2 separate regions of the Homo sapiens genome follow, and region 1 is linked to region 2. The links come from fine-mapping of genetic effects on gene expression. A gene starts in region 2. The other region holds a variant in brackets. All regions are shown on one strand. Distances are between the middles of the regions.

Region 1 (15,091 bases), 250 kb before region 2:
AGGAAAGACATCAGTGAATCTGGGAGAGCATGTGAGAGGCCACCCCATTGGGCCCGGTGGGTGTCAGGGGCAAGACCAAAGGCTCCTCCGGAGGCTGAGAACAGAGGAAAGATGACGCCCTAGAGGAGAAGGAAGGAGACCGGGGCTCTCCCCTTGGGAGGGGGCACCAGGAGAGTACCTGGGCAGAGGTGCTTGGAAAAGAGAATTTAAGGATCCCAATACTACCTGGAGGCCCATTTCTTTGCCTTGTCTTGGAAGTGTATAGATGCCCACCCACTCACAACCCCAAATCAAGGAGCACCCTATAGAAACTGCCCTGGGCCCATCCACTTCTTCTCCACCAGTCAGGATTCTTGCCTTAATCTCCAGTCTCTTTATCTTACCTCCTCCCCTCCCCCAGCTCTTGGGTAACTACTGGGAGCACAAGAAAGAGAAATGGACCCAAATTCCCTTGGATGACCCCCTGCCAGGGGAGGCAAGAGGATTAGGCTGGTGGATCAGCGGGTGCTAGCCCCTGATAGACAAAGCCTAGTGACAGGCTGGAGGGGAGGAGGCCAGCCCAGGCCCTGGGGCCTGAGAGGAGTAGGCGGAGTTCAAGGACTGTTTGAGCATAAATATGCCCCCGCCCCCCCATCCCCTACTCTACCCATGTCCTCTACACCTGCCAGGATTCCCTCATCCCATCCTCCAGGACCAGACACTTGTGCCCAGATAGTGCAGCAGGTGACCCAAGCAGCTGGGAGGCAGGGTCAGAGTGCAGATGGAAGGATACAGGGCCCCCTCTCACCCACCTTGTCCTTCAAGGTCAGCACATTCTGATGCTGTTAGCAAGTGGCTTTAGGAAGCTCTGAGGTCACCACTGTGGGGGCTCCCAACCACCTGGCGGGACTGGCTGGGACTCCCCACTCACCTTTTCCGGGCACCTGAGTAGGAGGGAAGAGACTTAACCCTGTTTAGGCGTGCTTCTGAAACTCAGCTAGAGGCTCTCTATCCAGGCCCCAGTAGCAAAGCAGGCTTTCACCCCAGAAAGCCAAGCAGATCTGGGCAGAGAGAAGCCATGAAGGTTACTGGGATGTGGGGCATCACCCATCCCCTGCCCCCAGGGCCAGGAGCGCCTGGAATTCCTGGGGAGCAAGTCCCTCCCCTGGCTGGGCAGGTTAGGGAGCCCTTCATGTGAGCAACAGGAAATGACAGTGGCTGAAGCAAAGGGGTTGGCTGCCCCACGGGGACAGGGTTCATTTTAACCCCTGACTCACCCAGCATGGGTACCTTGAGGAGTGGGCCAAGCTGCAGCCAGGGTAGGAGGCTAGGGACTTGCTCATAACCAGGCCAGGGACCCAAGGCCCCGAGCTGGGGTAGATGCTGGTGCCAGGGGACATGCAGGGGCTTGGCACAGTGGGTGAAATGGAGGCTTCCTGGACCATCTCTCGGCCTATCAGTATTGTTCTGGGGCTCGAGTTGCACCTGGCTTCACTTTCATTCACCTGCAGTGGAAAATCCAGAGGGCTGCTCCTGCCAGAGTCTGTACACCGCATGCTGTTACTGGATGACGGACACCTGGATCCTGTGGTGGTCCTTCCCTCAAACCCCACCCACAGGTCCCAGTCCTGACCCGTCCCATGGAGAGCCAGGGAAGAGTGAAGCAGGGGTCTGGGCTTCAGGCCAGATATAGCAGACAGAGCACGAGTCCAGCCCAGCTCTGCCACTGCTCCCAGTGTGACTTTGGGAAATCCACATCACTCCCAGCATCGCCAACTTCCTCATCTGCAAATGGACGTGATAACAGCACCTACCGCTTAAAGGAGCAGGGAGGATTCAGTGAGTTAATGCACTGTGTCCCAAGCCTTAGTGCAGTTTTAAGCTTTAATAACTTCAGAAATATGAATGCTAAAAACTTCATTTGAAAGTTTCCATATTTAAATTTCTTGTATATTTATTTTTTAATTGTGAAAATGTTTTTAAATTTTAATTTAAATAATTTAATCTGTCCAAAGAGGTGTGTAAGTTGGAGACATTTATGTCTGAAAGAATCCCAGCTTAAACCTGCACTAAGACTTTTTGGGGTGCTCTGTGTATGAAGCACATCTAGAAGAATGCGTCACATGGCAAGGGCCGATGAGAGCTGATGTGAGACTGCAGAGAAGATGGACTCAGAAGCTGCATGTGAAGTACTCAACATGCCTGGGGCCTGGTTCAGAGGTGATCAGCACCAGCCAGCTGGGGTGACAGCTGCTTGGCTCAGATGCCCTGACAGGAAGCCCAGTGCCTCTGTGCAGAGGAACTCTGCTGCACCTCCCAGGAGAGGGAAACTGAGCAAAGCAACAGGAATCTCTGACAGAGAAGGAAGGGTCAGGACACCTCAGTGAAGATGGCCAGGAGGAGGAGCTGGGCAGGGGACTGCCCCCATTGTCCAAGGTGGCGGACACCTGGAGAGGCGCTGCCTGGAGCTGCATGCCTGTACTTGCCAGCTCTGGGTAAACAGTGAAAGGAGCTGGGCAGCAGGGGCCCCCCGCACTGGGCAGGGAGGGGTATGGGGGATCCCAGCCAATTGGCTTGCCTCCCACTGCCCCATGAAAGGGCCATTCAGTTCAGGCTGTTCCTGTGGCAACAGGGAGACTCGCAGCCACGTGAGTGCCCGTCCTGTCCCTGTCTTGCGCAGCGAGACTCCGGCCAGGGCCCCAGCCCGCTCTCCTGCCCATAGTGCATTCTGTGGCCTCCAGGGACAGCTGTGCAGGTAATGCCAAGGGGCACCAACCCAGGCTGTGCTTTCACCTGGAAGGTGCTAGGACCTTTGAGAGTGAAACTGGGGGTTGCGGGAGGGGAGAGACATGTGGAAGGCCCCGGCCCCAGTAGGAACCCTCTCCGCAGGCATGGGAACTGTAGCTAGAAGTCAGAGCCGAGAGGCAGCTTCCATGGAGTATTAGTGATGGCATGACTCCCAGGGCTGCTAGGAGGAGGCGGAGGGGTCTGGCAATCACCTGCCAGATGGGAGGGAGAGTGGGGATTTGGGAGCCCTCCTGGGAATCTGTGGGCCAGAGATGTGGCCCCACCTCCGGCTCCAAAGCCTTTCAGAGCTGTCTGTCCCTGTCCTCTGGACCTCGTTTGGCCCCAGCACTTCTGCGTCATCAGCAGGGTCAAGGGATGTCACGGGCTTGGGGCGCTGCCCGAAGAATACCAATTCCCTGAGAGCCTTACTGTGGGGGAGGGAGAGGGAGAGCTGTGGGGAGGAGCCATGAGCTCATACCCTTGTTGGGGGGATTGTATCTGATTGGCTGCCTGGTGTCCCAGAGCCCAGCTCCTGAGACCTGGAGTCTCTTTGACTTTGCATTATTGATGGAGTTCTCCAAAGCAAAATAGGGCAGGACTGGGCCCCCACCCCGACCCTGTGCCTCTGTCTGTCTCTCCCGCTATGGTTTCCCTCTAACGCTGTGTGACATCATCCCCCAGTTACCTTTTCCTAGAAAGGGGTGAAAGTTGTGCTGGGCACAGTGGGCAAAGGAGTGTACATGAAGGGCCAGGGGCCCCCTGGGCCAGGTGGCAAAAGGCTAGACAGTAAGATGGACCAGGCCTTTCTGATGTCAGCCTGGACTGAAAACTGCTGGAGTTCTCAGGCAGGGTCAAGGAATGCTGTTCCGGGCCTATATGGAAGCCACCTGCTCATCTCTCACCCCTGTACCTACCCCAAAGCCTTGTGTGGACTGGGATTCTAGAGCTTTCTGCCAAGCCCTCGCATTTGGGGTTTGGCACCAGCTCCTCTCTGCCCTAATGGGCTGGGTTGCCAAGCCAGTGTCTGCTGAGTGGCCAGATGTCTGCCCACTGCCTGTTTCTCTCGCTGGGGGCTGCAGGGGGAGGCCTGGCATCCCAAGCTGAGGCCAGAGGCTGGCCAGGCTGGGAGACAGCCAGCCCTGATATTATCACAGACCTTCAGAGGGCGGAGCCATGCTGCCTCGCAGTAGCTGGGGGAGGAGATGGTAGCCACTGTCATTGTGGAGCCCTTCACGTGTTGTTATCTCATTTATTCCTCACAACAGCCCTGTGAGGTAGGAATTATGAGGATGATGGTTTTACTCATTTACAGATGAGGAAGTTGGGGCTCAGAGAGGTTACGTGACTAGTGCAAAATCACCCAGCTAGTCCATCACAGGGCAAGTCCCACAACTCTGAGAGTCCTGGATGGCTCTGCTCCATCCCCCTAGAAAGCCCCCCAAGAGCCCCTGATGCCCTCGGGGAAAGGCGTCTGACCCTACTTGCTCCTCTGCCACTCCAGCTCCATTGGATACAGGCTGCACGTTTACGGTGATGGAAGGCCTCTGGGGGTCCCCAACTGACCCTAAATCTGATGCGGGGGAGGTAACTCCAGGTTAAGTAGAAAGAACACTGGCCAGGATTTTAAAGACCTGGATTCCAGTCCTGGCTCTGCTGGTGTGTGGCCGGGGGCAAATAAGCATCACTTTTCCCATCTGTATAACAGATAGATTAAAATTCATGATCCTCTGGGGCTCTCAAAGCTCCACATTCAGCAGTGTCTGTGTTCCTTCACTAGACCCTCCCCAGCTGCAGGACTGGAGCAGGGAAGGACTGGGAATGCCACCTGCAGTGCAAGATTTGGGACTGTAGGGGGCCCCCTTTGCACAAGCATCGCCAGGACCAATTTGAGATCTGTGTTTGTAGAGGAAGCCTGTGTTGGTAGAGGAACTCTTAGGAGGCCACAGGGCCCTAACTCCACTTAGAACAGAAGCTTAGCTCAGTGAAGTGAGTGTCCCTCACTGTGGGACCATGCAGCAGGTGCTGGTGTCTGGGGAAAGGGTCTGGAGACCACGTTCTGGCCCCTCATTGTTGCATGCTCACTCACGGCCTCCCCTGCCCACCCACACCCCATTACTTCCTCCCCTGAGCCTCCTTGGCCTCACAGGGGATCTGACCAAATGATCTTCAGGTCATTCCAGCACAGACAGTCTAGGATTCCAAAAAGACACCTGCTCATCACATAAGTCAGAAGGGACAGATGTGGTCTTAACTCCTGAAATATCCAGCATTCTCAACCCAGGGGTCAGTGGCATTCCCCCAGCTCAAGAGTTTCTGCAGATGCTGAGGCAATGGGATTTGACCTGGAAGACTGCACGGCTTGGTGGGCTGTGGAGGTCAGATAGCCCCTGCTTGCGTGTTTGAGTCTTTGAATGGCCAGGATGCGCTGACTTCCTGTGTGGCATATAAAAGCCACCTCATCCCTCGCACTCTCACCGAGGTGTGAACACACAGGTGCAAGCAAGCTCCTGTGCACACCTGCGTGCATGTGTGCTTCTCAGCAGCCAGCCTGCCTCTTGTGGAAATGGACTGGGAGCTCTGAGGTTCTGGCCCAGCTGAGGATGGGGAGCAGGTCTGTGGGAGCCCGACACCTGGCAGGGCCCTCTGACAACTACACTCCTTGTCTTTCAGCCCATGAGGCTCCCAGTCCCCACTGAGTGCCACCCTGAAGGATGTCCCAGCTCTCCTCCACCCTGAAGCGCTACACAGAATCGGCCCGCTACACAGATGCCCACTATGCCAAGTCGGGCTATGGTGCCTACACCCCGTCCTCCTATGGGGCCAATCTGGCTGCCTCCTTACTGGAGAAGGAGAAACTTGGTTTCAAGCCGGTCCCCACCAGCAGCTTCCTCACCCGTCCCCGTACCTATGGCCCCTCCTCCCTCCTGGACTATGACCGGGGCCGCCCCCTGCTGAGACCCGACATCACTGGGGGTGGTAAGCGGGCAGAGAGCCAGACCCGGGGTACTGAGCGGCCTTTAGGCAGTGGCCTCAGCGGGGGCAGCGGATTCCCTTATGGAGTGACCAACAACTGCCTCAGCTACCTGCCCATCAATGCCTATGACCAGGGGGTGACCCTAACCCAGAAGCTGGACAGCCAATCAGACCTGGCCCGGGATTTCTCCAGCCTCCGGACCTCAGATAGCTACCGGATAGACCCCAGGAACCTGGGCCGCAGCCCCATGCTGGCCCGGACGCGCAAGGAGCTCTGCACCCTGCAGGGGCTCTACCAGACAGCCAGCTGCCCTGA[A/G]TACCTGGTCGACTACCTGGAGAACTATGGTCGCAAGGGCAGTGCATCTCAGGTGCCCTCCCAGGCCCCTCCCTCACGAGTCCCTGAAATCATCAGCCCAACCTACCGACCCATTGGCCGCTACACGCTGTGGGAGACGGGAAAGGGTCAGGCCCCTGGGCCCAGCCGCTCCAGCTCCCCGGGAAGAGACGGCATGGTGAGTTTACCCTTGGGGACCGGGGATAGGCTGGGGAGGCAGCCACTGATGGAGAACAGCCAGGCTGAGGGCTCGACTCCCAACCTGACTGATGACTGACAGGCTGCTCCTGGTGGAGACAAACAAGAGAAGTCATCCTGGCACATCTGGTGCCCCTGGGGCTCCGTGCCGAGGGGAGGGGCCTTCCCACTCTGCCTAGAAAGCCCACTCAGGGCCCGCGCACTCGAGGATAGTCCAGTAGTGTTCTCAGGAATGCTCTGCTGCGCCCAATGAACCACTCTTCTCACCTTCTCCTTTTCTATGTGACATGCCAGTGTCTCCTGCAGGCCTTGCCCCAACCTGGGCTGGATGCGGGGGGGCCCAGACCACCAGTGCACCCTGTGGCAGGAGGGCCTCCTTGCTGTGGTTGCATCTCCCCTCTTGTGCAGGCTTTATTCCCTAGCCCCAAGGCCTGGCTTTACATTTGGACATAAGACATCAGGGGAAGAGGGACTCTCCTCTGAGTGACACTGGCATACTCAGGACCAGGGTATCAGACAGCAATGCTTATCATCTGGCTTTGGAGAAAGTAGGGGAGAAATTTTTATCTAGGGCTTGAGACAATCCAATACCTCTATTCCAGCCCTGCCTCAGCTGGAATGAGGGAAGAGGCTCTGCTGGAGACTGACCAAGGGCTGGCATGGGCTCGCTCGCCAACTAATGCCCGCACACGCCTCTCTTGGGGCACTGACGACATCTGCCTTTTCTGTAGTTATTAGTGTGCCCATTAGGTGGCAAGCTCTCAGAGGAGGAAAAAGAAATCCTATCTCTAGATCCCCTGCCACGTGCCTCCCACAATGGGGGCTGACCTGCTGATTGCAGGGATGAATGGATGGATGGATGTGTGGGTGGTGGGTGGGTGGATACACGGGTAGATGGCGGGTGGACAGATGGACAGGCAAGCATATGGGCAGAAGGGCTGGATGCTGTGTCTCCTCCATTACCTTATGTACCCCTCCCTACTCCTAGGACAAATACATTTTGAAAACAACAGCATGCCACAGCAAGAAATACTGCTTGGAGGGCTGATCCAGACAAATGCAGCAGGGGTTCAGGAATAGGGGCAGGACCTTGAAGCTTGCATAACTAAAGGTCTTGAGAGAGCAACTTTGATAATATGACTTAGGGAGTCTTGGCTTTGTTGTGCCATCTGTGAAGTGGCACAGGAGATAGAAACGCTGGTGCCTCCCAGAACATTCAGAACTTGACAAGGCAGGGCTGGATCCACTGTAGAAAGGAGTGGAGAAGAGAGATGTGTCACAACAGAGCTGGCATGGTGGGGAAGTATCAGCTCTCAGGGTGCTGCGTGCTGGGCTTGGAGTGGAGCAGGACTCACTTGGACTCGGCTGGTGCTGTTCAACCCCAGGGCAATTAGAATATGGCTCTCCTCGGAGGGGCTCGGGTCCTAGAAGCCTCTGCGGGGCTCCCTCCCCTTGCTCAGAAGAGAAGGGTTGTTTCATGGTCAGCAGTGCTCCTTAAAGTGGGGTCTGCAGACTGCCTGTGTCAGAGTCACTGCAGGGCTTAACGATTCATCCAAACCCACTGAAGCAAACTCTCTCGGGATGGGGCCTGGGAAGCTGCTCTTTCCACAAGCTCTTTGGGTGATCTCTAGGCATGCTGAGATGGAAAACCTCAGCGCAGACTAAACTACAGACCCACCCTCAGCCCCAATCATGACAGCAGTATTCCCCTTTACTGGGGATCAGATTCCACTGGGAATCTGCCTCCTCCCCACACAGGCATGGCCCAACCCTCCTGGGAGTCTGCCGCCCTCCAACTCTCCAGAAGGGACAACCCTGGCTCCTCCCCCCGGCTCCAGGGCCAAGGTGAAGGGAATTTTGAGAGAGGACCTCAAAGAAGTGGCAGATTGCCCTGGGACAAACTCAGCCACCCTCATCCAGAAGCAACTCATAAGGCACTTTAGCCGGGAATGCCCTGCAGTTGAGCTAGTGTTTCATTCTGAGCTCATGCCCCAGAAGATACTGCCAACCAGCAGAGGCCTCTCCAGGGTCAATAGTACAAGACCTTTATTTAACCTCACCCTGATCTCTCCACCCCTTATCGTCATTTCCTGGAGCAGAGTGCGTCTTGCTGAGGTGAGAACAACCCTGCTCGTGCGGCCTGGACCACTTCTTTCTAAAACTGGGTCCAGTTTCTTTCTAGATCTCCATCTGGGGATCTTGCCTTCTGAGGCACTCATTTGTGGTGCTCAGCTTACTAGCAGCGTGACCTCAGATAGGTCCCTTAGCTTCTGAACTTGTGTCCTCCTCTGTAAGATGAGTGATCATAGTTCCCACTTCACAGATTACTTGAGGAATGAAAAGATAATGTATGTGAAAGTGCCTGGCATGTTGCTTAGTAAATGTTAGTCCTCGTTGTTGTACCCTTCTGGTGCTTTGGCAGGCAAGAGATGTGTGCGAGCAACAGTCCCTGCCTTCAGTGCCTTCACAATTCACTTAGGGAAATAAGTTTGTTTTGTTTTGTTTTTTTGGAGATGGAGTCTCGCTCTGTCTCACTCAGGTTGGAGTGCAGTGGTGCGATCTCGGCTCACTACAACCTCCACCTCCCAGGTTCAAGTGATTCTCCTGTGTCAGCCTCCCAAGTAGCTAGGACTACAGGCGTGTACCACCACACCAGGCTAATTTTGTATTTTTAGTAGAGACGGGGTTTCACCATGTTGGCCAGGCTGGTCTTGAACTGACCTCAGGTGATCCACCCGCCTCGGCCTCCCAAAGCGCTGAGATTACAGGTGTGAGCCACCACGCCTGGCCAAGAAGAAGTTCTTAAATAGGTACAATGGGAGGCAGCCCTGGGTGTTCTTGAGTGTCACAGGTGGACGGAAAGGGAGAGGTCATCTGAGGCTGGGACGGGCTGCTCGTGACCAGTGGAAGGAACAGTTGGCCTCTCTAACCTTGGACACCTATCAGCTGGGCTGTATTTCCTAGACTATAAAAGGGAACAATCACGCCCGCCCTGCCCACCTCTCAAGCATGCCATGAGGCTCAAAGCAAATAATGAAGGTGGAGGAATGTGAAATCAATAAAATGCTGCAGAAGAGGTCATTTAAACTTAAGGGGGGAAAAGAGATCATAGAAAGGGGGCGTTTGGCAGCTGACTAGAGTAGGAAGCCCCCTCCCCACCAACCCCGTGGGAGAAACAGAGGTAAAAAAAAGTACATCCTGTGTCCCAGGGGATTCTCAGGATAGCTGACTGGAGCTACAGCTGGCATTCATTAAGGGAGGTCAACAGCAGGCTGTGACCAGGGAGAACAGTTCTAGCCAGACTTCTTTCCCTCATTAACAGTAATAGGCAACACGAACTTTGAATATCACAGACTCAGCTGAGCATGAGCACAGAGCTGGCGGGGGGCAGGGGCGGGTGGCAGGGGGCGCCACATAAATTCAGAATTATCCCCTCCCCATGCTTGTGTAAGCACCAACAAAATGCCAGGCCAGGGGGGCGCAGCTCAGCACTTGTATAATGAGGGCCTCCCCTGAGACTTCACCTTCTGCTTAAAATGCAGAGAGGAGGAACAGTGATGGTGGAAAAAAAGTGTTCACTAACCCAAGTGGGGACTCCAAGCCAGCTCAGGTGGCTCAGCCCTGCAGAGACCCAGGAGCCCCAGTCCCAACCCTGTCATCTCCCTACTCTGCCCCACTTCTCCTGTTCCCGGGGTCTATGGAAGGACGAGCTGTTCCCATTGAGCCCTGCCAGGGCTGCGCTTTAACCCCTACAATCCTTCCTAATCCCCCTCAGCTCCACCCCTCCAGCTGCTCCTCCCTAGCCCTGGCATTCTGCCCGCTGGCCTCTGCCCAGCCCTTGCCCCACCCTGCCCAGGCCACCCTCTCCTCTCCCCAAGAAGATCCAGGGGTTGGCCCAGGGCCCTCCAGAGCACAGTCAGCAAGCTGGGCACCTGCAACTCGGAGGCAGAGCCAGGGCTGAGGCTCAGAGTCTGGCCCAGCCTATTCTCACCCACCCAGTCTCTTCCACACCCTTGCCCTCCGCTCTAGGACCTGTTTCTAGGAGCAAAAGGTCTGGGAAACTGAATACCTGGGTCCTATTTGCCACTGGGGCTGCTGACTCATCTTCCGAAGCCTTGGGTTCCAGCTGTTCAGTGACAGGGAGATTATATAAGCTGAGGTCATGTGATTTTTCCCTGGGGTGGGACTTTGGACTTGAATGCTGCCCTGCAGTGAGCGGAGGTTACTCCAAAGAGAACAAATTGCGGATAGCAGGGGCTGTCCTGGAGCTCCTAGGTGAGAAGTACAACTCGCCTCTCGTCCCTCATGTTCTCGCTCCGTTCACGCAGCCACACTGGCCTGTATCCCTGCTGCCTTGTTTGTCTAGCTTGGCAGCCTGAGATCCTGGGGTCTGTCCTTACCTACTCCCACCCCGGGATCACTAAGCCACCCTAAGGAGGTTGAACTTCCTGAGGTCATGAATCTGTGTTGGCAGCATGAGAAGGTCACTAAAGGACCTTAAGCCAGAGGGGCCCCTTGGCCAGGAGCTGTACTAGCTGCTGCGAAGGAAAGGGCAGTGGGTTTGCGGTTTGTGACTAGAATCAGCAAGACACTGATGTCTCCATCCCTTGCAGACCGGCTGTGGGCTGTATCCTGGCCGTTAGCCTTGGTACTGCCTTATCCAGGCTCAATTTCTCAATCGGTGCCCAGCACCATCCTCCCGCCTCCTCCTCCACCCCCACTCCAGGATGTCTTCATGAGTTAATGTGGTGCTGGGGTGGGGCTCAGCAATGCAGAAGTTAATCCAAGCCTGGCAAAATGTTCCTTGCCCCTGGGGGAGCCGCTCCACTGACCACCAGCTGCAGAAATGAACATCATGTTCAGAGCCCAAAGCTGCACACGTGGCCCCTTGTACTCTCTCACCTCAATACGTACATAAAACTAGCGCCCCAGACGGAGACACATGCAAAAGAAGGAGGTGTGTGGGCCTCTGGAATCCAGCTGGTTCAGGCCAGACTGCCTGGGCTCAAAGGTGCACAGAGCTTTTGGCCTCTTGGGGTCCACGTCATGCAGGGAAGCAGACCTTCCTACAGAGAGTGGGGAGGATGGGCTGACCCTCTCTCCCCAAGGTGCACTGTGGGGCAAAAGCCCAACCCCTAACAAGGACTCAGAGCCCCTACCTTTTCATCCATCAATCAATCAGGCCACCGGTCTGTCCATTTGCGGTGGTAATCGCAGGCACATGCTGGGAGCCAGGCTTTAAGACATCTGCCTTAGCCCCAGCAGTGTCACCAAACCCTGGCCTAAGCTGCCCACGCAGATCTGAGAGAAGCAGAATACTCTCAGTCCCCGCCCTCATAGAGCTAGCCCTAACTTTCATTTATATCACTCCATCTCATGCCAGGAAGGATTTAAGGTGACAAAAATTACTTATCCTATAGGGAAGCAGGCCAAGCCCAGGTTCTGAGGAACGGCAGTCAGGATGCAGGAATGAGCCCAGCTCAGTTTAGCTTTGTGTATTTGAAGCACAGAGAGTCACTGAGCCAGAGCCAGATTCAGATGCCAGAAGCCTCTATCCTTTGTATCCATCCCACTCCGAGAATGGCAGTGAAGAGAAAGGGTCTCACAGAGACCTGGCTGGCCGAGAGATGAGCCAAGGTCCTTTGTGGCCGTGTCCTGCAGCAGTCGGACCTGCTTGACTAGACTGGACTCTGTGTGAATTCTTTCCCCCAACCCCAGACTTCTCAAAGTGCTCCCACGCTAAAGCTTTCTGCATCTGGCCCTCCCTGCTCCTGGCAACCCCTCTAACCTCCTAAATCCCAGGGAAGAGGGAGAGCAAGCTGGCAGAACACCCAGATGTCCTGGGTGGGAGTGCTTACATCACTGTGTCTAAGTCATGGGGAAACAGGCCAAATGCTATAGTGGGTGAGCACCTCTTGGGCAGGTCCCCCCAAGCCCAGCAGCACATGTGTTCAACATGCAAAAGCAGACTCACACCCCACCCTCTGAGGCTTAGTGTGACTCCCAGGATTCCTAGCAGAGCCTGGTCTGGCCCTCTTTAGAGACAAGATCAACACCATTTATTAAGAACCCACCAAGAGAACCCACAACCCTGCCCTTGAGGAGGTTTCAGTGTGCTGGCAAAACCAAGACAAGCCACACACAAGACCATTTATAGGACTCTTTGAAACACTTATAAAGCAAAGATAAACATATTAAGATAGATTAACACCATGCAAACTGAATGCGCATAGACTGACGATATGCAGTAATGGAGAGTTTAGAGATGGGTGGAGTTAATTAGGGAAGGCTTTTGGAAGATGCAAATTTTAGGCAGAATTTACAAGTAGGTAATTGGCAGAGAGCAGGAAGTACATCCCAGAATTTCCTGTTAAAAGCATGGGTTTTGCTGTAAGACAAAGCCCCACATTGTCATTTATTAACTTTGCAGTCCTGGAAAGTCATTTGACCTCTCTAGGCTTAAGGTCCTTCACCTATAAAACAGAGGTAATAGGCCGGGCGTGGTGGCTCACGCCTGTAATCCCAGCACTTTGGGAGGCTGAGGTGGGCGGATCACTTGAGGTCAGGAGTTCATGACCAGCTCGGCCAACATGGTGAAACCCCGTCTCTACTAAAAATACAAAAATTAGCCAGGCGTGGTGGTGCGCACCTGTAATCCCAGCTACTCAGGAAGCTGAGGCAGGAGAATTGTTTGAACCCGGGAGGCAGAGGTTGCAGTGAGCCGAGATCGTGCCACTGCACTCCAGCCTGGGCGACAGAGCAAGCCTCCGTCTCAAAAAAAAAAAAAACAAAACAAATAAAATAGAGGTAATAGTTACTACAGCATGATGTTATAGAAATTAACTGGGATAATATATATAAAACCCTTAACCCAGTGCCTGGGATCTAATAAGTACTTAATGAGTGGCAGTTTTGGTTTTTCAGCAGAGGATAAGCACAGGCTGGTTGACAGCAGTGGTCAAAGACTGAGGGTGGTGGGCCTGTGGACAAACAGCCTTAGAGAAAGGCTACCTGAGGCTTCGGGGCTGGATGCAAGGGCAGGTGCTCTAGTTGTTTCAGGACAGAAGAGTGATGAGATCAGATGCAAACATTGCTTCAGATGGTGTAGGGCTGGCTTGAAAGCGTTTGGCTGGAAAGGAGGCTTGGAGAAAGGCTGCTGCAGTTTGTCCGGGGTCCAGATTCAGTCAGAGTCTGGGTGAGGACAGTGACTGTAGAGATCACCACTCCTCACATGCCCACTCTCACTGATCACAAGCAGACTGCCTGTGGTTCCTGTCCCCTGCCCCCTCCTCCCACCACACTGCTGGCACACAGGGGAGGGGGCAACTGTCCCCATCCCTCTCTCATTAGCATGAAATTGCTGCTTTGTCGGTGGCCTGGGGTACTGCCATACGTGTGTCCTGGACACAGTCCCCATGTAGCTGTGGTCATGTGTGCGTGTACATGTGGGGATGAGCACACCAGAAGGAACAGAAGGAGCCCACAGATGAGTAACAGCATACACTGCTGCCTCTTGGAGTATTTTTAAATGCTAAAAATACTGGCTAAAAATAGCCAGCAAGCTCCAAACAAGATACTTTCTCTAGGCAGATTCGTGAGCTTCCCTGTTAGGTGGAGGGGTGGGGCATCAGAAACGAAATCTAAAGACCCCTGATCTTCCAGCATGGCTGTGCTTGACGCCAGAGTAGAACACTCGCCCCATGCCAGCTGAGCGCCTATTTCCCCACTATTGTATTGCTTTCTCCCCAGCTCCCCAAAACAAGTCAAATTTGAGAATGGGAGAGCCGGAGCTGGGTAATTGGTTAGAAGAGACCAGAAAAGGTTCTTTTCAGGAGCCAAATGAGAAGGTGACCTATTGGACCTTATAAAACATGAGCACTGCCTCTCTTGAAAGAAGCCAAACAGGACTGTTTTGAGGAGGGCAGCTCAGCCCCTAGGCCGTGAAGGTCCATCTTCTTAACCTGGGCACATTGACCTCCACAGACTGCATGAGTTTGGGTCTTCACGAAGGCCTGAGTACCCCCGGAACTCTAGACAAAAGTTTGTGCATATACGTATTTCGCCCTGAAGAGAGAAGAGCTTTCATCACGTTCTCAAAATGGTTTGCAGCCCCCTCAAGAGTTAGGAAGTGTAATGGTGCCTTGGGGGAAGCTCACCCGGTTGCCACTGGGTCTTGGGGAGACGTCCTCTGCGGGCCCCAAAGATCACTTATCCCGAGCTGAGCCTCAACCCCGAGGCCGGCCAGGGCCTCAGGGCTCCGGTCCTGCCTCCCCCGCGGGCCTGCCTGGCCGGGGGTCAGCGGGCTGGGGGCGCCGGGGAGCGCGGGGAAGGCCCGGCGGGGGAGGACCGACCTTGTCGCCTCGTTCGGGTCCGCGTGCCGGCGCCGGGGGCGGGGTAGAGGCGAGGTGGGGCGGGGCTTAGGGCCTGGCCCCGCCCCAGCGCTGACGTCGCGGGGCCCGAGGCGCCGGCGGGGCCGCCAGTCGGCCGGAGCGCGAGAGCCGGGACCCGGGCTGTTGGCGGCGCACGCCGGGGAGGTTGAGGCGGAGGAGCGCGCGTTCGGGCGCCGCGGACGCTGTCCTGTAGCGGTCTCGCCGGCCTCGGCGTCCGGACTGTGGCACCGCGCGGGGACTCCCCCCGCGCCCCCGCTGCCAACGTTAAGCGAGGGCCAAAGCCCGCCGCCCGCCCCCCAGCATGCGCACCTCGTACACCGTGACCCTGCCCGAGGACCCCCCCGCCGCCCCCTTTCCCGCCCTCGCCAAGGAGCTGCGGCCGCGCTCCCCTCTCTCCCCGTCCCTGCTGCTCTCCACCTTCGTGGGGCTC
Region 2 (15,091 bases):
CTCCAGCCGGCAGTCAACCTTGCCCCTGTAGGACCCCTATCCCTTTCTGTCCCAGCTCTTCAGGAACCCCAGCGTTTCCTCCAGAAGCCACAAGTTAAGAAGCAGCCCTACCTTTCCAGCCACACAGCACCACCGGGTTGTCCTTGCCGACTGCTTCGTATTCACAGCACAGACTGTGTGCTTCCACATGCCGATAAAACCACTCAGGATTGTCGAAGGAATTCTGTGCCAGGGGCAACTTGGGGTGAGGACTGAGGGTGGGTAGAGGGACTCACCCCTATGTGCCCGAAGAATTCTTGGCTCTCTCCCAAATTAACTTGATGGGGATGGGAAATTTTGAGGAAAGGCACTGCACAGAAATGGAGGAGTGGCCGGGTGCGGTTGCTAAACCCTGTAATCCCAGCACTTTGAGAGGCTGAGGCAGGAGAATCACTTGAGGCCAAGAGTTCGAGACCGGCCTGGGCAACACACCCAGACCTTGTCTCTACAAAAAATTTAGAAGTTAGCAGGGCATGGTGGTACATGCCTGTAGTCCTAGCTACTTGGGAGGCTGAGGTGGGAGGATTGCTTGAGCCCAGGAGTTCAAGGTTACAGTGAGCTATGATTGTACCACTGCACTCTAGCCTGGGCTTCAGATCAAGAGCCTGTGTGTAAAAAATAAACAAATTTTAAAAGAGCAAAAGAAATGGAAGAGAGATACTAGCAGGAATCTTGGAAATATAAGGCATCCCTGAAAGGGACAAGGCATCAGAGTTAAGACCCCCAGCTTCCTTCCACCCCAATTACTGGCACTGCCTGCTGACCTCACAGTGCTCCCACAGACACAGGAAGTGGTCAGGGATATCAGGGATGACGTTCCGGCTCTGGAAGTCCAGGATGCAGGGGCCAAGGTCAGCCTGGCTTTGCAAGGCCTGCAGCCCCCACTGTTTCAGCTTGGTGTGGTAGCAGTGGAAGTAGACATGGCGGATGAGGTCAGCAGAACTGTCCAGAGAACAAAAGCCACATTCCTGCCACAAGCAGGAGAATTCTTCCTCTGTAGAAAGGGGTTTAAAAGGAAGAGTCTGACACTTTCCAAGGCTCAGGTCACCTTCCACCTGCAGCACTAAACAGAGAGTGAGGAGGCTGGACTCGTGAGGAGGCTGGACTCTAACCAAATTACCAGGGTTCATTTAGCAAATACCAGTATTTAATGACCATAAATTGTGTGCCAGTTAGAGGGACTATAACAAGTAAAAAGTGTCCCACTCCTTGCCCTCACATAGCTTTCAGTCAGGGAGAAAGCATATTCATCAAATAATCAGATCTATAAATATAAAACTGCAACCAGTGATGAGTGTTACAAAGCGGGGATATACATGGTGCTATAAAAGCATTAAACAGAGGTCATTTGACATGGTGTTCTGAGAAACGTCCCCATGTTGAACTCTGAAGTACGATGGATGAGTATCTGTAAATAGGTGAAGAAGTGTGGTCTAGGCAGAGGTGAGAGTGTGTGCAAGGCCTATGCCAGAAACAGACAGCAGAAATGGCCGGCACGCAAGTCCTCTGACTTGAGTTTCTGCAGTTCCTGATGAAGATGCTGCCTCTCGATCTGACACCTCCCACTTCTCCTTGTAAAACCACCACTCCTCCTTCCCCTCATGTTTTGCTCAAGATCTGCCTTCTCCAAGAAGGCCCCATCAACTCTTCCAATCCATTTCCTATCTCTCTAGCATCCCTAAGCACTGTATTTTCAGCGCTTTATATAAGTTAACTTGTTTTGAAACACAGATACTTTAGAAAATATAATCATTCCCCAATTTTGCCTTTGTATAAATATGACTTGAATTTTGAAACTATCAATTATGGTTCATAGTCATCAGACTTAAAACAGAATTTGGGGTGGGAGAAGGAGAGCTGCCTCCATATTTCCTGTAGAATAGAGTTTTTCAGACTGTGTTGTGACCCACTAGTGGGTTAGGAAATCAGTTCAGTGAACTATCAACCACATTTTGGGCCGGGTGCGGTGGCTCACGCCTGTAATCCCAGCACTTTGGGAGGCCGAGGCAGACAGATCACGAGGTCAGGAGATCGAGACCATCCTGGCTAACACAGTCAAACCCCGTCTCTACTAAAAAATACAAAAAAAAATTAGCTGGGCTTGGTGGTGGGCGCCTGTAGTCCCAGCTATTTGGGAGGCTGAGGCAGGAGAGTGGCATGAACCCGGGAGGCGGACCTTGCAGTGAGCGGAGATCGAGCCACTGCACTCCCACAAAAAAAAAAAAAAAGAAAAGAAAAATGTATTCCTGCCAGATGCAGTGGCTTATGCTTATAGTCCCAGCTGCTCAGCATGCTGAGGCAGGAGGATCACTTGAGGCCAAGAGTTTAAGATCAACCTGGTAACATAGCAAGACTCTGTCTCTAAAAAAAAAGTGGCTTTGGTCGGGCGCAGTGGCTCACGCCTGTAATCCCAACACTTTGGGAGGCCGAGGCAGGCAGATCACAAGGTCAGGAGTTTGGGACCAGCCTGGCCAATATGGTGAAATCCTGTCTCTACTAAAAATACAAAAATTACCCGGGCGTGGTGGCGGGCACCTGTAATCTCAGCTACTTGGGAGGCTGAAGCAGGAGAATCACTTGAACCCGGGAGGCGGAGGTTGCAATTAGCCGAGATCATGCCATTGCACTCTAGCCTGAGCAACAGAGTAAGACTCCATCTTACTCTGAAAAAAAGTTTTTTTTTTCCTTTTTCTTTTAAATCCTGCCACACTTATTAGTACCGTGACTTTGGGCAAGTTATTTTATTCCTCTGTGCCTCCGTTTCCTTATTTGTAAAATGGGTATAATAATAGTGCCTATCCCATCCTGGCTAACACAGTGAAACCCCGTCTCTACTAAAAATACAAAAAAAAATTAGCTGGGCATAGTGGCATGTGCCTGTAATCCCAGCTACTCGGGAGGCTGAGGCAGTAGAATTGCTTGAACCTGGGAGGTGGAGGTTGCAGTGAGCTGAGATCGCACCACCACACTCCAGCCTGGCGACAGAGCAAGACTCCATCTAAAAATAATAATAATAAATAATAATAATAATAGTGCCTATCTCATAGGCTCTTTGGGAAATAGTGCTTTAATGTAGGTTTAAAAAAGTACTGGCCGGGCATGGTGGCTCACGTCTATAATCCCAGCACTTTGGGAGGCTGAGGCGGGCGGATCACCTGAGGTCAGGAGTTCAAGACCAGGCTGGCCAACAGGGGCATCCTGGCTAACATGGTGAAAGCCTGTCTCTACTAAAAATACAAAAAAAAATTAGACGGGCGTAGTGGCACGCACCTGTAATCCCAGCTACTCGGGAGGCTGAGGCAGAAGAATCGCTTGAACCGAGGAGGCAGAGGTTGCAGTGAGCCGAGATTGCACCACTGCACTACAGCCTGGGCAACAAGAATGAGACTCCATCTCAAAAAAAAAATAAAGTACCCAGCAATACTTAACACACAGTAGGTACTATAGAATACAGTTCACTATTGTTATTGTTTTCAGATTGGATTTTATTAAAATCCCAGTTATTTGCTATTGATAAAAGGCATACCTAAAACATAAGTCAGACAAAGGTTAAAAAGTGAGAGATGGGGCCAGGTGCGGTGGCTCACGCCTGTAATCCCAGCACTTTGGGAGGCCGAGGTGGGCGGATCATGAGATCAAGAGATTGAGACCATCCTGGCCAACATGGTGAAACCCCATCTCTACTAAAAGTACAAAAATTAGTTGGGCGTGGTGGCGCGCGCCTGTAGTCCCAGCTACAAGAGGCTGAGGCAGGAGAATTGCTTGAACCTGGGAGGCAAAGGCTGCAGTGAGCCGAGATCGAACCATTGCACTCCAACCTGGCAACAGAGCAAGACTCCGTCTCAAAAAAAAAAAAAAAAATTGGAAGGTGGGAGTGGGGTTGGACTTGGTGGCACAAGCCAATAGTCCCAGCTACTTAGGAGGCTAAGGTAGGAGGATTGCTCGAGGCCAGGAGTTTGAGATCAGTGGGCAACATAAGCAAGATCCTGTCTCTAAAAAAAATTTTTTTAAAAATTGGCGTGTGGTGGTGGTACATGCCTGCAGTCCTAACTACTCGGGAGGTTGAGGCAGGAGGATCCCTTGAGTGTTGAAGGCTGCAGTGAGCTATGATCATGACACTGGACTCCAACCTGGGTGACAAGATGAAGCCCTGTCTCTAAAAAGTAAGATGTATTTCTGACTGGTTGCAGTAAAAGAAAAAAAAAATTGGGAATACTAGAAGAGTAAAAAAAAAAAAAAAAAAAACACAACAACAAAACACAGGTTGCCAACAACTTGTACAGAATGATTAAAAAAAAGCACATTCATCTGTATTTAAATATATGTAAACACAGGCAGAGAGATGTCAAAAACAATGTTCACTAAAGTACTGTCAGCAATTACTTCTTGATGGCAGGATGGCAGATTTATTCCTTATATCCTTGTTGACTGAGTTTTCTATAAATGAGTTTACAATGTTTTTATATACAACAAAAACACAATTAGGAAAATAAACCACCATTCTCTTAGGCCGCCTTCTCCCTCTAAGGAAAAGAAAGTCAGATTTTCCACCTTTCCTTGAGCTCCTCCCCTTCCTGTGTCCTGCTCTCTTACCAAGTGGGTCATCCTCCTCTTCCTCTTCCTCCTCCTCCCCAGAGCCATGCAGGTGCTGCTGCAGGTGCTGAGTGACATGCTCAAAGAACTTTTCCATGGTTGAGCACACAAAGGAGCAGGACCCCCACTCACACTGTAGCCACAGATTCTCCTTTCGGGGAACTTTCCCAGGAGGCGGCATGGCCTTCACCCTAGAGGAAGAGGAAGAAATCCACAGCTGCAAGAATTCCACCCAGGTGCTGCTGAGGGCAAAAAGCTGGGCAGGCAGCCTGCCTAGAATCAGCACGTGTTGTTCCAGTGACCCATGAGAAACCCTGCCCTTTTACAGTAAGGATGGAGTAATTCCTTAAATCCCTGGAAGATGTCTGGTGTTTGTGGAAAGGGAAAACAAAAACTAACACTATTGAGTGTGTGCCAGGCACTGAGCTAAACGCTTTAACAGACATTTTCTCATGAAGCTTCAGAGCAACCCACCAAGAAGGAATTATTCCTCTGTGAGGCAGAACAATGCTCAGGTTCAAACAGATGGCTTTTGAGAAGGATCAGGGTTCAAATCCTGGCTCCACTGTCTACCATCTACTAGCTGTATGACCTTTGTCAAGAACTTAACTTCTGAATACTCTCATCTGCAAAATGAAGATAATAAATCTTTTTGTTTTTAATTTCACACTTACTATATGTCAAGCACCACAGTAAGCATTTTATTTGCATTATGTCATTTAATTACCAACACCACCCTTTGCCGTAGGTGCTTTTTTTTTTTTTTTTTTTGAGATTGAGTTTCGCTCATCTCCCAGGCTGGAGTGCAATGGCTCGATTTTGGCTCACTGCAACCTCCGCCTCCCGGGTTCAAGCGATTCTCCTGCCTCAGCCTCTTGAGTAGCTGGGATTACAGGCGCCCGCCACCACGCCTGGCTAATTTTTATATTTTTCGTAGAGACAGGGTTTCTTCCCCATGTTGGTCAGGCTGGTCTCAAACTCCTGCCCTCAGGTGATCCACCCACCTTGGCTTCCCAAAGTGCTGGGATCATAGGTGTGAGCCACCACGCCCAGCTGGTAGGTGCTATTTTTAACCTCATTTATAGATAAACACCTGAAGTTCCAGAGGTCAACTGACTTGCTCACGGCCACACACTAGTGGTAATGGTAGGGTCATGTTGGGCTGACTCTAGTCCATATACGGTTCTACTCCATAGAGCCTACAGATGAGCCTAGAAGCTCCTTATTTCTTATTGAATCATAAGTCCCCTGCCAGACTTTCACAGTGCCATACAATCTGCCTTTACCTAACCTATCCAACGGTTTACTCCACCACTCTGCTAATACCTTCTGTTAAAATGTAGATTCCATTTGAACATAAAAAGCCGTATCTGTGTAGTTTATACTGCACCTTGGGTGTCTATACACTGCTAGGCATGCTTAGGCATGTAATAAATATTTTTTTTCTTGAGACAGAGTCTCACCCTGTCACCCAGGCTGGAGTACAGTGGCACAATCACAGCTCACTGAAGCTTCGACCTCCCCAGGCTCAGGAGATCCTCCTACCTCAGCCTCCCAAGTAACTGGGACCACAGGCATGCGCCACCACATCTGTCTAATTTTTGTTTTGTTTTGTTTTTGTAGTGACAGGGTTTTGCCATGTTGCCCAGGCTGGTCTCGAATTCTTGGACTCAAGCAACCCATCTGCCTCAGACTCCCAAAGTGTTGGAGTTACAGGCATGAGCCACTGCACCCAGTCTGTAATAAATATTTATTGAAGAAAGATAAACATGAAACTGAAGGTTCTCGGCTGTGCGCACTGGTGCACACCTCTAATCCCAGCACTCTGGGAGGCCAAGACAGGTGGATCATCTGAAGTCAGGAGTTCAAGACCAGCCTGGCCAACATGGTGAAACCCTGTCTCTACTAAAAATACAAAAATTAGCCAGGCGTGGTGGCACAAGCCTGTAATCCCAGCTACTCGGGAGGCTGAGGCAGGAGAATCGCTTGAACTTGGAAGGCAGAAGCTGCAATGAGCCGAGATCGTGCCACTGTACTCCAGCCTGGGCAACAGAGTAAGACTCTGTCTCAAAAAAAAAAAAAAAAAAAAACACACACACACACACAAACAAAAAACTAAAGGTTCTCAATTTTATTTCATTTTATTTTTATTTTTTGAGACAGAGTCTCGCTGTTACCCAGGCTGGAATGCAGTGGCGCAATCTCAGCTCACTGCAACCTCCACCTGCCGGGTTCAAGAGATTCTCCTGCCTCAGCCTCCTGAGTAGCTGGGATTACAGGTGTGTCACCACGCCTGGCTAATTTTTGTATTTTTGCTAGAGACAGAGTTTCACCATGATGGCCAGGCTGGTCTCGAACTCCTGTCCTCAGGTGATCCACCCGCCTCAGCCTCCCAGAGTGCTGGGATTATAGATGTGAGCCACCATGCCCAGGTAGCTCTCAATTTTAGATCTGCACACGAATGTAGTTATCCAGCGCCTGCGTGAGAAGTTCGGATTCAGGAAGGCAGGAGTTAAGCCTAGAAATCTGCCCTTTTAACTCAGCACCCCAGTTGTGATGCAAGCAGTTCCAGAAGCATACTTTGAGTAACAATTAAAGAATAAACGAAACACAGAACAGAGGGTGACGTTGCAAGCAAAATTTCTGCTAGAGAGAGGACACTAGCCGGCCTTGGCTCTGTCTCCTGAGTGTCACCTTCTCCTCAGGAATTCTCACGGATTCTTGCTGACCCCACCATGTTGCTCTCTCTGGCCTACCTGAGACAGGTGGGAACTCTGAAAAAAGGCCTTTACTGAATACTAAAAGGAAAAAAAACAGAAAATACGAAAAAACAGAAGATCCTTCATGCCCCCAATACAGGCTTTTCTGAACCCACTATACCTACTGTACCTACATAGCCTTTTCTCCTCCTCAGAGAAGAATCCAGTCATCCTTAACACTCTGGGGTGCATATAGGGTTGCTGAGCTGCTCACAGACTACTAGTGAATCCCTATTACAAATATTGACTGCTGGGCCGAGTGCAGTGGCTCACGATCTTAGCACTTTGGGAGGCTGAGGTGAGCAAATGGCTTGAGCTCAGGAGTTTGTGACCAGCCTGGGCAACATGGCAAAATTCCGTCTCTACTAAAAATACAAAAATCAGCCGGGCGCAGTGGCTTATGCCTGTAATCCCAGCACTTTGGGAGGCCGAGGCGAGGGGATCACAAGGTCAGGAGATTGAGACCATCCTGGCCAAATACAAAAAATTAGCTAGGTATGGTGGCACACGCCTGTAGTCCCAGCTACTATGGAGGCTGAGGCAGGGGAATCACTTGAACCCGGGAGACAGAGGTTGCAGTGAGCCGAGATCGCACCATTGCACTCCAGCCTAGTGACAGAGCAAGATTCAATCTCAAAAAAAAAAAAAAAAAAAAAAAAACAGCCGATGTGGTAGCATGCACCTGCAGTCCCGCTACTTGGGAGGTTCAGGTGGGAGGAAGGCTTGAGCCCAGGAGGCAGAGGTTGCAAAGAGCCAAGATCACACCATTGTACTCCATCCTGGGCGGCAGACCCAGACCCTGTCAAAAAAAAAAAAAAGAAGAAAGAAATATTGAATATTGACTGCTTTTATAATGTTGTGGTAAGAAAAGTAGAAAAAAGCTTCAAAAGTCATAAAATCCCACACCTCCTCTGACTATTACAGTATGAAATGCAAGGCTCTTCTCAAAGTGGTCTCAATTTTACTTCTCCAGTTCTAGGTAGGGAAACGAACATCTATTGAGAAGCTACAGTGTGTCAGCCCTGTGGTGAGTCCTCTCTACACTTCATCTGATGTAAGAGCACCCTCATTCCAATCCAAAGATCATGCTCTTTCTCCCACATGATGCTGTTCTCTGGCTTCCTCACCCATACTTCATTCCCTCTTCCTCTGATTCAATCATCTTTGTCTCTGAATACTCTACATTCTCCTAAAACTCTCTGCCTACGCAAGTTCTTTTTTTTTTTTTTTTTTTTTTTGGAGATGGAGTCTTGCTCTGTCGCCCAGGCTGGAGTGCAGTGCTGTGATCTGGGCTCACTGCAACCTCCGCCTCCCAGGTTCAAGCGATTCTCGTGACTTAGCCTCCGAAGTATTATAGCTGGGACTATAAGCACGCACCACCACGCCCAGCTAATTTTTGTAGTATTAGTAGAGACGAGGTCTTGCCATGTTGGTCAGGCTGGTCCCAAACTCCTGACCTCAAGTGATCCGCCCGCCTCGGCCTCACAAAGTGCTGGGATTACAGGTGTGAGCCACCGCGACAGGCCTACCTATGCAACTTCTATTCGCCTTTCAAACCCCAAAGTCTTCTCTTTGATGACCCCCTTCCCAATTCATCCAGGTACAGCTGGCATATCCCATCTCTTGCCCACGGCATCCACACACATCTTTGCTATCAATGCAATGAAACTTGTTTCCCCTAGACTAGGAGTTTCTCAGGACAGTGGCCATCACTTATTCACTTCTCATTCTCAGATTCAGCACAGAGCTTTGCACACCCCAGGTACTCAATAAATATCAGGAGATAATCACATTCCGGGAAGCCTTCCTAAACTACCCCATCCCTGAATCTACTCTTGCTCCTTAGTTCTATGGCTGGCACAGCTGACACCATAAAACTTCAACCCTATTTTCATGTTGCCATGGTCGTTTTATGTGTTCTAGTCTCGTTTACCCAATTGGACTATAAGAAGCTTCTGAGCAGAAACCATATCACACCTGCCCGTGTCCCTACACTGTGCCGAGCACAAATATTCTAAACATACACCTGCTGTTAGACTGGTGGGTAAGTCCAAGGAGGCAAGCTAGCTGGCGATACAGAATGATCTGAAACCTAGGCAAAACTCCCTGACGCTCTCTGACTGTCCTCCTGTCTTCTTTAATTTCTCTTTCTGTGTCTCTTGTTTCTACTCTGAGGAGATAGGGGCATGATCTTCACTCTACCCTCTTAACACTTAAGAGGGCATATACTGTAACGCAAGACAATGAATGAACTGTGGTATTCAAGAAAAAAAGGGTCCTAAACGCCTAAGAACTCATAATTTGGCCAAAAAGATAAGACTGATACGTGAAGACAACGACCGAAACAAAGTACCCGATGAGGGAGACCAGGACAGAGAGACACCTCCGCGGTCAGGCGAAAAGGAAGTCTCCCCTAAGCAGTGGGGCCCGCACCACGCCTCGAAGGACAGGTAGAATTTGGACAGAAGGAAGGAGACCGTCCCGTTGGGCAAAACCTCTCCACTCGCAGTCCCGCAGGCTTCCCGGAATCCTTCACGCTAAGGCGTGGCGGCGACCGAGTCTCAGCCGCAGCGAAGCCCCTAGACTAGAAAGCAGGGAGGTTCCAGTCGGGGTGAGGGGACCGGACCAGGGCAGACCAGCGTGGCCAAGCGGCAAGAATACTCGCCGAGGTGGCTCGGGAAGAGCTTGGCCTCCTGCAGCCCCTGCAGAGCACATACCCCAGCTTACCGTCTGTCGGCTCCAGGTCTCTTCAGCTCTTCTCCCACCTCAGACCATCTCCGGAGAGGCGCTTGAGGGACGGTCAAGGAAAGCCAATCGTCGTTCTCGGATCCGACTGACAGCCAATGGTAGCTGTGTCTGGCGGAACCCGTGCGCACCAAAACACGGAAGGGGCGGGAACAGTGGGTGGGGCTAGGCGTCCCGGGCGGACAGAGGGGCGACAGGATACGTGCAAAAGGTAGCACGTGACCGCGCCTCGCTGCTCAGGGCAACGCAAAGGCGGGGAGCCTATGGGCCTGAGTTCCCCTAACTGCGCAGGCTCGGCCTCCGGGACCCAACGGGCATGCGCAGGGCTCGCGCCTGGTGCGCAGTGGGGTCTCCCTCACGTGGTTCTTCGCTTTAGTTGGCTGGTTGCGTGGGCCTCGCGGAGAAAAAGGCGTGGGATGCTGCCCAGCGCTGTCGGCCCCGCTCGGCTCAGATTGAAGGTTCTACCCTTTCCTTCAGCCTCTTAGTCTTATTATGTTTTAAATGTTGGTATTATATGTTTCTCTTTCCCCCCAAAACTCGGCTTCCCTTCATCCACTCGTTCAGGTCAGAAAGCTGGCAGTCATCACTGATTCCTCTCACTTCTCACATCCAATCCATTGCCAAGTTCTGTGGATTCTACCTCCTTTTAAAACAGGATATTTCAAATTTATCCCCTTTTGTTTATCTTCACCGCCTCCCCCACCTCCCCTGTCCAGTGATGACCTCCAGGCAGGATTTATACATTAGTCTAATGGGTCCCGCTGCGTGCACACTTGCTTCCTTCCAAAGCATTCTCCACTTTGCAAAAAGCAGACCTGATCAAGTTACCATCTGCTTCAGACAATTCAAAGGCATTCTATTGCTTTCAGGGCAAAGCTCCAAAACCATACTGAGGTTTTCTAGACCCTTCAGCATCTGGGCTCTCCCTGTCTACTTTTTTTTAGTCCTTCTCGACCATATTTCTTGCTCTCCAGTCGCAAATTTCTTTCACCTTTTCCACCACACCAAGCCACCTTTTACCTCTCAAGCCTTGAACTTGTTTTCTTTACCTGGAATAATCCCTTTCTCCTCCTCCCACATTTATTTGACTGACTCCTACTAATTTTTATGGTCTCAGTGTAGATGCTTCTTTTTCCAAAAAGTCTTCCTGATAGTCCTTTCTTGTATTTAACAATACAGCTCAGTCACATTGTATTTGTCTGTTTACTCTCAGTCTGCATTCTTCACTAGACTAGTTCTTCACCTTTATAACTCCATCAGTGGGCCGGGTGTCGTGGCTCACGCCTGTGATCCCAGCACTTTGGGAGGCCGAGGCGAGTGGATCACATGAGGTCAGGAGCTCAAGACCAGCCTGGCCAACATGGGGAAACCCCGTCTCTACTAAAAATACAAAAACTAGCTGGGCATCGTGGCGGGCGCCTATAATCTCAGCTACTCGGGAGGCTGAGGCAGGAGAATCGCTTGAACCCAGGAGGCACAGGTTGCAGTGAGCTGAGATGGCACCACTGCACACCAGCCTGGGCAACAGAGCAAGACTCTGTCTCAAAACAAAACAAAAAACAAAATAAAACAAAAAACCCATCACTCACTTAGCCCAGTGGCTGAAACTCAGTAAGGGTTCAAGACATACTTGTTAAATAATATACCTTAATAAAGTTGGTTAAGACTGATATTTTATTGCATTGTAGTTTTCTGTATCTTCTAATCTAAAAATAAACCTATATAATTTGTACAATCAGAAAACACATTAAATGTTCAATATATATAAAATAAAATTTAAAATGCCATTAAGATAGTAAAGTCATACTTGTGCATAAATTTTGGTTTTAACAACAGTGAGTTATAACTTGGTCCCTATTTTAAAATAGGGTTTTGCAGGGCGCGGTGGCTCATGCCTGTAATCCCAGCACTTTGGGAGGCCGAGGCGGGCGGATCATGAGGTCAGGAATTCGAAACCAGCCTGGCCAACATGGCGAAACCCCATCTCTACAAAAAATACAAAAATTAGCCAGGTGTGGTGGTGGGTGCCTGTAGTGCCAGCTACTCAGGAGGCTGAGGCAGGAAAATCGCTTGAACCTGAGAGGCAGAGGTTGCAGTGAGCCAAGATCACTCCACTGCACTCCAGCCCGGGCAACAGAGAGAGACTCTGTCTCAAAAAAAAAAAAAAAGCGTTTTAAAAAATGTAATTCAAAAGTAACAAAATATATCTTACCAACTTTATTCATTCAAAAATGCATATAGTAGTACTTCATGAAATGCCATCCTCATTTTAATTCAGATTTACACCACTGAAAATAGCTTTTAGCTTTATTTAGCAATTTTATGAAGAAAAAGTTCATTCACAGAGCTGTGTAAACTCAAACATAGGTTACAGAGCAAAAATTTCAGGATTGCTCTGGGATCCATATATATGTTTCCAAAATTTAAAGCAGTGTCATTCTGTCTAGCATAGTTTACTTCTATCTCAATCTGCTTCTCTTGAAAACAAGCCACAATTTTGGCTGGGTAATTCAGACATATCCTGAGATTTGTTCTTTAAAAGCTGCCACAAAAACTGAAAGCATAATTCATACTCATTAAAAGCTGTGGATCCCTTCTGAAAGTGTGAAATGGATTAAGTTGATGAAAATATGTTTCGTATTTTTTTCATTCATTTAAAAATTCCCTATTTTTGAAACGTGATCAGGCTCTTCTTCACTAAAATATGTGATTCCATGGAACTCTGGGCAGCTCAGTACTGGAAGCTCAATACAGATTCCAGTTACCATCTACTCATTCCCCAGGTCCTGTAGAACTCTGAATACCTGTTCTCCCATCAACAAAAGTTTCTTGTGCAATCACAAGTTCACTGTGTTTGGTTGTCGTGTCATACTGGTAGAAAAACTGTTCCTCTGTGAACCACTAAGAGTTACATTTCTTAGACTGGGGAAACAGCTTGAAAAATCTCTTTGAATTTTCATGACTTAGAATTGAACATTTCACTACATAAAAATCAACCAAATCGATGTGTCCATCAATGGAGGATTGGATAAAGAAAACGTAGTTAATGTAGTGAGTGATAAAGAAAATGCAGTTTATAAACTCCAACTTGACTTTAATAAATTAAATTCCAAGCTGTCACACAGCAATGGACATCATTATCATCGCCCAACACACACACACACAGTGGAATACTACTCAGCCATAAAAAAGAATGAAATCATGTGTTTTCCAGCAACATGGGTGGAACTGGAGGCCATTATCCTCGGTGAAATAACTCAGAAACAAAGTCAAATATGGCATATTCTCATTTATAAGTGGGAGCTAAATAATGGGTATACATGGACATATAGAGTGGAATAAAAGACATCGGAGACTATGAAAGGTGAGAAGGTGGGAGGAGGGTGAGGGTTGAAAAACTACCTATTGGGTATGATGTTCACTATTTGGGCGATGCGCACACTAAAAAAAGCCCAGACTTCACCTCTATGCATGCAATATATGCATGTAAGAAACCTGCACTTGTCCCCCCAAATATATAAAACTAAATTATCTAATTGAAAAAAAAAATCTATACCCTCCATTCTTCCCGGATATCTCATATTTGGTGAGTAGTGTGGACAGGAGCATGGGGAATAGTAACAATTTCCACATGCTATCTACCCAAAGGCATGTGCCCTAAACACCCTGAGATATAGGTAGTCATAGAATGTCAAGGCTGGAAGTGACCTGAATGTTTATCCAGGTCACCCTTATTTTAGATATGAGGAAACTGAGGTCCCCAAAGGAGAAGTTGCCTGCTCAAGATCACTTGGTTTGTCTGTGGCAGACTCAGTTTTCTTGCTTCCTGGTCCTGCATTCTGCCCAATATCCTGTAGCAGCTTACCTGGTTCAAGTCCTGTATAAGATCTCAAGCACGGGAACCAGGGACACAGTTTGCTAGGATCTATCAATCCCTGAAATTTGCCCACATTTCAGAATGAGAGAGCTTTTATTATGTTGAAACACTTCTAAGACTTCCCCCTCCCAGTTTCTTCTGAGGCAACAGTTAACACTCAGCACTTCATTTACTTCTCATCCACAACCAAATGATAGCCATGATGATTGAAGTTCCCATTTTACAGATGAGAAAACTGAGGCACTTAGAGGTTACATAACTTGCCCAAGGTCACACAAGTAATTAGAAGAGCTGGGACTCAAACCCAGGCAGGCAGTCTAGTTACAGGGTCCAAGCTTTGATCTCCATTACATCCTAGAAGGAGCAGCCTGTTCCAGAAAGGGGAATGAAGACTAACCTGTACTAGTTGATTGAGTTTTTTGCTACAATTTCATACTCCAGAGCCTCCTGTCTCTTCCATCCTTTCTCTGCACACCCCTTCTTCCCTGCAGGAACTTCTTAGCAGATCCACAATGTGTGTCATCTACCCAACCTCATTATCCGGGCCCCTGTCTCATCCTCCCACACCATCCATGTCACAGCCTGGCTGCCTACTGCCTTTCAAAGGATAACCAGTTGTCCAGTTTATAAACTCCAATTTGACTTTAATAAATTAAATTCCAAGCCATCACACAGCAATGGACATCATCATCGTCTCCCAACACACAGAGGTGCAGCCTTGCGTGGCTCCATCATCACAGTCTTTAAATAAAGCCCCTAAAGCCATCTCTCTGGGGAAGGCTTCCCACCAGGCTCCCGGCTCCCTCCTTCCCACAGAGCCACTGCTCACAGAGAAGGCATCAAGTACAAAAAACGGTAATAAAGGGGGAGGGAGGGATGAGGAGCAGGAGGGGAGGCAGGAAGGTGGGGAGTACCTGCCCCCCATCCCGGGCCGGCCCTGCTCTCTGTGAGCTGCCAACATTCTCAGAGGCAGACACTGGTGCTGGTCTGAGTGGGGACCTGAGGGAGGTGTGGGAGCCCCATCCCAAAGGGAATTACCCACCCTCCTGGGACAGAAAAGAAGGGTCACCTGGGAGAG

The links. PIP is the estimated chance that this variant, and not a neighbour inherited with it, causes the effect.
Region 1: its variant is fine-mapped to the expression of HINFP in coronary artery (GTEx, PIP 0.96).

The regions. Positions count from the first base shown.
Region 1 is chr11:119,363,867-119,378,957 of GRCh38, reverse strand. It overlaps USP2 (ubiquitin specific peptidase 2), which reads left to right. Exons shown (of 13, transcript NM_004205.5): 2 at 5,437-6,251. The coding sequence starts at 5,478. Among named protein-coding and RNA genes, the nearest start is that of USP2, 10 kb to the left of the region's middle. RefSeq lists enhancers at 1,148-1,736, 2,053-2,631, 5,498-5,998, 9,587-10,517, 10,389-10,533, a cis regulatory region at 10,454-10,467 and a silencer at 14,593-14,782. The variant A/G (reference allele first, on the strand shown) is at 6,056.
Region 2 is chr11:119,116,667-119,131,757 of GRCh38, reverse strand. It overlaps HINFP (histone H4 transcription factor), which reads right to left and starts at 10,178. Exons shown (of 10, transcript NM_198971.3): 1 at 10,119-10,178; 2 at 4,633-4,823; 3 at 804-1,033; 4 at 112-223. The coding sequence starts at 4,813. C2CD2L (C2CD2 like) reads right to left here. Exons shown (of 14, transcript NM_001290474.2): 14 at 13,214-15,091. RefSeq lists a silencer at 10,165-10,444.